Linked DNA regions of Homo sapiens. The protein of the gene in region 2 interacts with the protein of the main gene of each other region in a biochemical or structural test. Each region holds a gene or a part of one and is shown on either strand. Other genes may lie near its edges.

The links.
Region 1: the proteins of NHS (region 2) and CFTR form a complex in vitro, tested with the Homo sapiens proteins (one study listed by BioGRID).

What each region holds. Positions count from the first base shown.
Region 1 is NC_000007.14:117,591,525-117,595,024, reverse strand, and holds part of CFTR (cystic fibrosis transmembrane conductance regulator), read right to left. Parts: intron 3,092-3,500; coding exon 2,368-3,091; intron 96-2,367; coding exon 1-95. UniProt on the Homo sapiens protein: Epithelial ion channel that plays an important role in the regulation of epithelial ion and water transport and fluid homeostasis. Mediates the transport of chloride ions across the cell membrane.
Region 2 is NC_000023.11:17,724,700-17,728,199, reverse strand, and holds part of NHS (actin remodeling regulator NHS), read right to left. Parts: intron 2,854-3,500; coding exon 1-2,853. UniProt on the Homo sapiens protein: May function in cell morphology by maintaining the integrity of the circumferential actin ring and controlling lamellipod formation. Involved in the regulation eye, tooth, brain and craniofacial development.

The DNA.
Region 1 (3,500 bases), on a different chromosome or scaffold from region 2:
ACAAAAATTAAGCTCTTGTGGACAGTAATATATCGAAGGTATGTGTTCCATGTAGTCACTGCTGGTATGCTCTCCATATCATCAAAAAAGCACTCCTGAATAAAAGAATTATGGCTATTACAATAAGACAGTACAGTTTCATGCCACCATTGTGGTTTTATTTTTAATATATGAAAATAAAAGAATAGTATTACTTGAATCTAAGTGTATTTTAACAAATATAAATCATTATAAATGCCATGTATGATGTCATTCTATAGCCAGAATAATGTCTACTGGAGCAACACAGCTTTATTAAAAATGAGAAACATCGTAATTTTTCAAAATTCTAAAAATGTATCACTGATTATATAACTGTATTATTATTGGACAATTTTACCATTAAAGGCTTAACAGTGGCATACCTTTTATCAAATGAATGATACCATCTAAATGAAGTTTCCCAGAACTCTCTTTGATTTAACCTGTTTCTTCAGGGGTCCATGGACAAGTACAGTTCAGTATACTTCTAGCTATAAAGGTCTTCCAATAGACTGAAAGCTCATTTGTGTTTGAACATTTCTTAGTAACTTAGGACTTTCTCTCTTTCCAGCTGTGATTTAAATTACATAATTCTCATCCTAGGCATATTCCTCTAGAAATCTTTGTCTTTTGGCATAGAAATACATTTCAAAAATTTGAAAAAGAGAGATTCCAGACAGTCCAAAGGAAAAAGAGTTTTGTTTCTCACAAAATCAACAAAACTCATGGGAAAGTGCTATGAATCACAAAGAAGGGCTCCTATGGAATTGGGATATAGTGCACTGGTTAGGAGTATGCATTTTTTGAGTCAGACAGATCTGGATTTGAACCCAACCTCCACCATTAACATCCTAGGAGCTGCTTGAATTCAAGCATGTTGCCGAACTCTGAACTTTAGTTTCCTTATCTGCAAATGTGAAAAATTTTAAATACCTTCCAGGGTAGTTGTGGGGACTAAATATATGCCACCTAGCACTAGATGCAATCCATTAATAGAAACTATTATTAGTCAAGGATATCATTCTTTACAACTAAATTTTTAGGCTCAGGACTGAGAAATTCATTTAGATTGATATTAAACTATATAGATGGGCTGGGCGCAGTGGCTCAGGCTGGACGTGGTGGCACACGCCTGTAATACCAGCACTTTGGGAGGCTGAGGTGGGTGGATCACAAGGTCAGGAGTTCAAGACCAGCCTGGTCAACATGATGAAACCCCTTCTCTACTAAAAATACAAAAATTAGCTCGGCATGGTGGTGCATGCCTGTAATCTCAGCTACTCAGGAGGCTGAGGCAGGAGATTAGCTTGAACCCAGGAGGCAGAGGTTGCAGTGAGCCGAGGTTGCACCATTGCACTCCAGCCTAGGTGACAGAGCGAGACTCCATCTCAAACAAACAAACAAACAAACACACAAAAAAACACTATATAGATGAATTATCATTTAGGAAACCTTCATAAAGTTTAGAAATACTAAAATTACACACTTTAGGGATCTATTTTATTCCCTCATTTTACAAAGAAGGAAACTTCTGCCTACAGATGTTAATGGCTTGTGTCTTGTCAAAGGTCATATTATTCACAAATGATCTATACTATTAAACATATCAATTCATTACAACCCTGCCCATGGCTCATTTCATCCAAGGCATTAAGTTTTCTACTAAAACAACAAAAACTCTCCTTTTTATATTATTTCCTGTTTTAAAAATAAAATGCTTTTATTCTTAAAACCTAATAGAACAAAATTTCTGTCTGAAGATTGGCACTAGTACATGTTAAGCTTATATACATTCTCTAAAAGAAATCTTTTCAGAAACCCAATGTATAAAGCAAACTCACAAGATAAAAAAAAGCCCACACTAGCTAAATTCAGGCAAGACTGATATACAAACCAGAATGTGAGTTAGTCCTATCAAGAGGCTAAATGTTTATATACCTTATATATGCTACTTCCATACAGATTATTTTGCGAGCTATAAATAATGAAAGCTACTATTTATTTATACAGTTATTTATACTGCACCTCTTCCCACAGAGGGTTCAAGATGGTAATAAAGCAAATGCTTTCTAACTTATAGTCACAGTTATCACTGGCTTAGTAGAGGACCAAAAACTAAATCCTTTCCCATTTTATGGGAAGAGATATGTCCATTGCAAAAAGAAATCATTTGTTATTTTACATTTTAACGTTGCTTGTATAATTAATGAACTTCATACTTTCTGAGTTTTAAGATACACCTTATCCTAATCCTATGATTTTAGTAAATTTTGTTACATGCTACATATTGCATTCTACTCAATTGCATTCTGTGGGGTGAAATACCCCCAAGCGATGTATACCTACCTTTAAGTCTTCTTCGTTAATTTCTTCACTTATTTCCAAGCCAGTTTCTTGAGATAACCTTCTTGAATATATATCCAGTTCAGTCAAGTTTGCCTGAGGGGCCAGTGACACTTTTCGTGTGGATGCTGTTGTCTTTCGGTGAATGTTCTGACCTTGGTTAACTGAGTGTGTCATCAGGTTCAGGACAGACTGCCTCCTTCGTGCCTGAAGCGTGGGGCCAGTGCTGATCACGCTGATGCGAGGCAGTATCGCCTCTCCCTGCTCAGAATCTGGTACTAAGGACAGCCTTCTCTCTAAAGGCTCATCAGAATCCTCTTCGATGCCATTCATTTGTAAGGGAGTCTTTTGCACAATGGAAAATTTTCGTATAGAGTTGATTGGATTGAGAATAGAATTCTTCCTTTTTTCCCCAAACTCTCCAGTCTGTTTAAAAGATTGTTTTTTTGTTTCTGTCCAGGAGACAGGAGCATCTCCTTCTAATGAGAAACGGTGTAAGGTCTCAGTTAGGATTGAATTTCTTCTTTCTGCACTAAATTGGTCGAAAGAATCACATCCCATGAGTTTTGAGCTAAAGTCTGGCTGTAGATTTTGGAGTTCTGAAAATGTCCCATAAAAATAGCTGCTACCTTCATGCAAAATTAATATTTTGTCAGCTTTCTTTAAATGTTCCATTTTAGAAGTGACCAAAATCCTAGTTTTGTTAGCCATCAGTTTACAGACACAGCTTTAAGATATAAAAACATATAAATATCAATTTTATAAATACTTTATTGCAATATGTCTCGTATTTTAGCATTTTGTTAATGTTTTATTGCATATAATCTCTATCATACAATTTTATTATATTTTAAATGATTCTATAAGTACTCTGTAGTAATTAAATTGGTACCTTGTGAATTCTGATAGCATGAAATAACATGCTATATTGAAAAGTTGCATGTTAACAGACTGAGAATGAAATTAAATTTCCTATATTAAGTAGATATTTGACTTTGAGCAAATCATTTATCCTCGGGGTCTCTCAGTTTATTTATCTAGAAAATGAGGAAATTATTAGATGATCTTTAAGGTCCCTAGAGATTTGTACTTCATTTCTTTTAAATGTCAGAGCTTTGTTGCTCTTTAAATTTTCT
Region 2 (3,500 bases):
ATGTTATCTCCGATTCATAGCTGATAGTACCAGGCACTTTGTCATGGTGGCGGCTCATAACAAATTGATGCTTAAATTGATTGCTTACATCTGTTGCTCTAGTTGGTGAGTCTGACTGAGATGTGATTACATCCACAGATTCAGGTTGTGCAACTTCCTCCAGACCTGCAGAGGGTGCCTTCTGTACCTGTTCTAGAGTTTCGTCTGGACCAGGTCCATATTGTATTATTTTACCATCCAAATCATTTGGGCGGGCAGCAGAGACCCTCTGAAATCCTTCTGTGGGAAAAGCACAGTTTTTGGTTGGCGTGTTTTCTGGAATAGGCTCAGTCTCTGTACGCACTTGGTCTTTTGTGACATTTGAATCTAGAAGACTGCTACCAGCTGATGTTATGGTTTCTGGATCGCAGCGATTCTTCACATCAAAAGTAGAGTTTTTTTCTAAATGTAGTTTATCTGGTCCCATCTCAACTGCAGAAGAGTCTAAAAAGGACAGTATGGTGTCTTCAGTGGAGTATTGACGAGATACTGATTTATTTGCTGTATGCGGCCTAATCTTACTTGGAGACAAGGCAGCCGTTGTGAGTGTGCTTTCCTCTAAATAAGGGAGATCTGTATTGTTTTCTTCTTTTTGCTTAACTTCTTCAGACTTGTTGATGGACCTAAGGTTAACAGATTTCAGGATCGTTGGTGTAATTGCAAGGGACGGTGGAGGATTCGACCTCAGTGTTTCTCCTACTGTGTTCTGCTTATTATGAGTAAAAACATGCAGTGGATGACGGTGGTGGAATGGTTTGTTCAAGACATTATGAAGAGCACTTAGATCAAGATGGGTAGGAGGTATAATTGGAAGTTCAAGGTCTTTACTCAGTGATATAGTTCCATCTTTTAAAGAGGGTTGCTGTAGTGAGGATTTTCTTTCTGGGACTTTAGGTTTTCTTTTGCTACCTCCGGGAGACAATGGACCTGAAAAGAAAGCTGTAGGGAAAGAGGATGTTGGCGTTTCAGACTGGCTTGAATAGCCACTTGATGGAGATGCCAAGCCAGCCAGCTTTTCTGGTGAAGCCAGTTTAAACTCATTGTCAACAGAAGGAAGAGATGGGGTGGTGGCTCTTGATTCTGATTGTGATGTTTGGGATTCAGAGCTCTCTGGAGATTTGATGCATTCAATGACTGTGGTACCCGTAGCGGTGCTTGAATTAGATAGAGATCTATAAGGATCATTTGTTTTCAAGTCATTTAGGAGCCAGAGGTCTGCATAGTGTGTGGATTCGGCAACTTCATCTTTGAATGGTGGAATATCCGAAGCATCTAACTGAGGTTCCTTAATGCCTTGTTCACTCTGGTTTATCCAAGAAGGTTCCTGCTTGGTGGGAAGATTGGCGTTTTCCATTCGAGAAGGCGTGTTGGCGAAATCAAGAGGCAGCTTCATTTCCCTGGAACTGTGAGGCAGGTGCTGACCACTGCTTATCTTTGGTTCTTTCTTCTCAGAAATATCTGCGTTTCCATCAGACTTCCTCAATGATGAGCTACGTTTAGGTGGGGTCGGCTTTGCCTTTGGTTTCCTGAAAGAGATGCTTGGTCTTCCCTGCCTCTTGTGGTCTAAGTAGTCCTGCCAGGCACAATCTGGAAGACCAGGGGAAGCCCCTACACCCTGGCCATTCTCTGGGCCCAGGGCTGCATAGTGACAGACATAGCTCTTATTACCTTTGAGACCACAGTCAAAGTGCATGGAGGTATAGTATCCTTCCGTGTCTACTGAAAAGTGAGAGCTAGTGTCCGCTTTGTCTGATGGAGACTTTTCCAGAAAGCTGTCATAAGTGGCCATGCTTGTGAAGCTTGGGCAGCCCAGGCTGTCTGCCTTGGGACGCTCAGGACTAAAATCCTGGCGGCAGGAGGCATCATGGTGGTGGTGTAGGTAATTCCACTCACTGTCACTTGTGTTGCTGTTGTTGGGATCATCCAGCAGGTCTGCAACAGTGGAGGTAAAGGAGTTTGCCCGATGGCCTCTCACTTTATCCAAGTGGTCATTGTATTGCTCTGTCACGAAAACACTGGCATCCTCATTGGCATGAGGGGCTGTGTTTAGTGACAACTCCGAGTCACAGTGTGAAGAGCCAGTGAGTGGAGGAGAAGCTGCAGGAGGGATGGTTTCTGAGGTCTGCGAGGGGCACGTGGAGCTGCTCCCACTCCAGTTGCCACTGGATGACTGGTGGTCATCTTTCTGGTCCATGTGGCTGCTAAGGAGGACGCCAGCCGTGGAGATGCAGTGGATGGGGCTCCCAAACGTGTCTGAGTTGGAGGAGATGTCACAGCTGCCAGAGTCAGCAGCCATTCGGGACAGACGTGACCTTCCCCTCTCACTTAATTTGTGCTGGGGGCTGTGAAGATGTTGAGAGCAGGCCAGGCCCAAAGTAGGCTGGTGGTCCTGGGCACTCGGGCTGCTTGGAGCCTCACTGAAATCATTAGGGGTTCTTTCATGGTCACCCACAAAAGACTCTCCCTCTTCATATGCTGAGGGTTTAGCGCCAACTTTGGGCTCAGCATCCCCACCTCTATTACCTTCCCGGGGAAGGCTCCGAGATCTTGTGCGGCTGCTCACTGCAGGAGTAAACATGGTGTCACCTTTGTCTGCTAGGGCAGAAATGTTGCCAGCAGAATGAGAAAGGGAAGCTGCAATGCTTTGACCCCTTTGAGCTCTGATTCTCCTTCTGGATGGGGCAGCAATCAGAATATCCTCGGTTTGGCACTCAGAGTCCCTGGTTCCGGATATCCTATTGACAGTGTTGGAGGGGTCTGGGTTTGTGTGCACAATCACATTCCTTTCCCTGGCCACTGGTGATTCATCAGAATCTAGGGCACATGGAAAGCACAGTGAGATATTTTCTATATCAGCAGACCAACAGACATTCTGAGCTATGTCTGTAGATCTGTGGGCTGGCAGGTTAGAGCTGTTTTTTTTTTTCTTTAACAGAAAAAAAATCAATATATAGAATTAGGTGAGAGTTAAAATGCTTTAGGGTGTATATACACGTCCCCCTCATATATGTATATATACATACCAAGAGAAGATATGCTTTTATGTCTTTTGTGAATTATCCCTCTCTTCACTATCACGTTAATTTGCCACAATAAGTGACTACTTTTAAAAACTAAAGTACATTTTATCTTTTTGGCCACTACTCTTCATTTTTATTTTGTAATATAAACATGATGAAATAAAAATCATAGGTCTCATTATTAGAAATAAAAATCTTATTTGCAAGAGATGATACCCTAATAATTTTTTAAAAATCATAGGCAGAGATATTTTAAATCCACTAAACAGAAACATTGTCACCAAAGGTATCATATTATCAATATTCAATATTTCATTGCATATGCCTGGAATTTACCTTTTAAAATAATTAATGACATGAAAGTATATCTCTCTTAAATTAAGTTACAATTTTCCAAAAAGAAAACTTTCATTGACTCCTGCTACTTTTTATTCACAATTT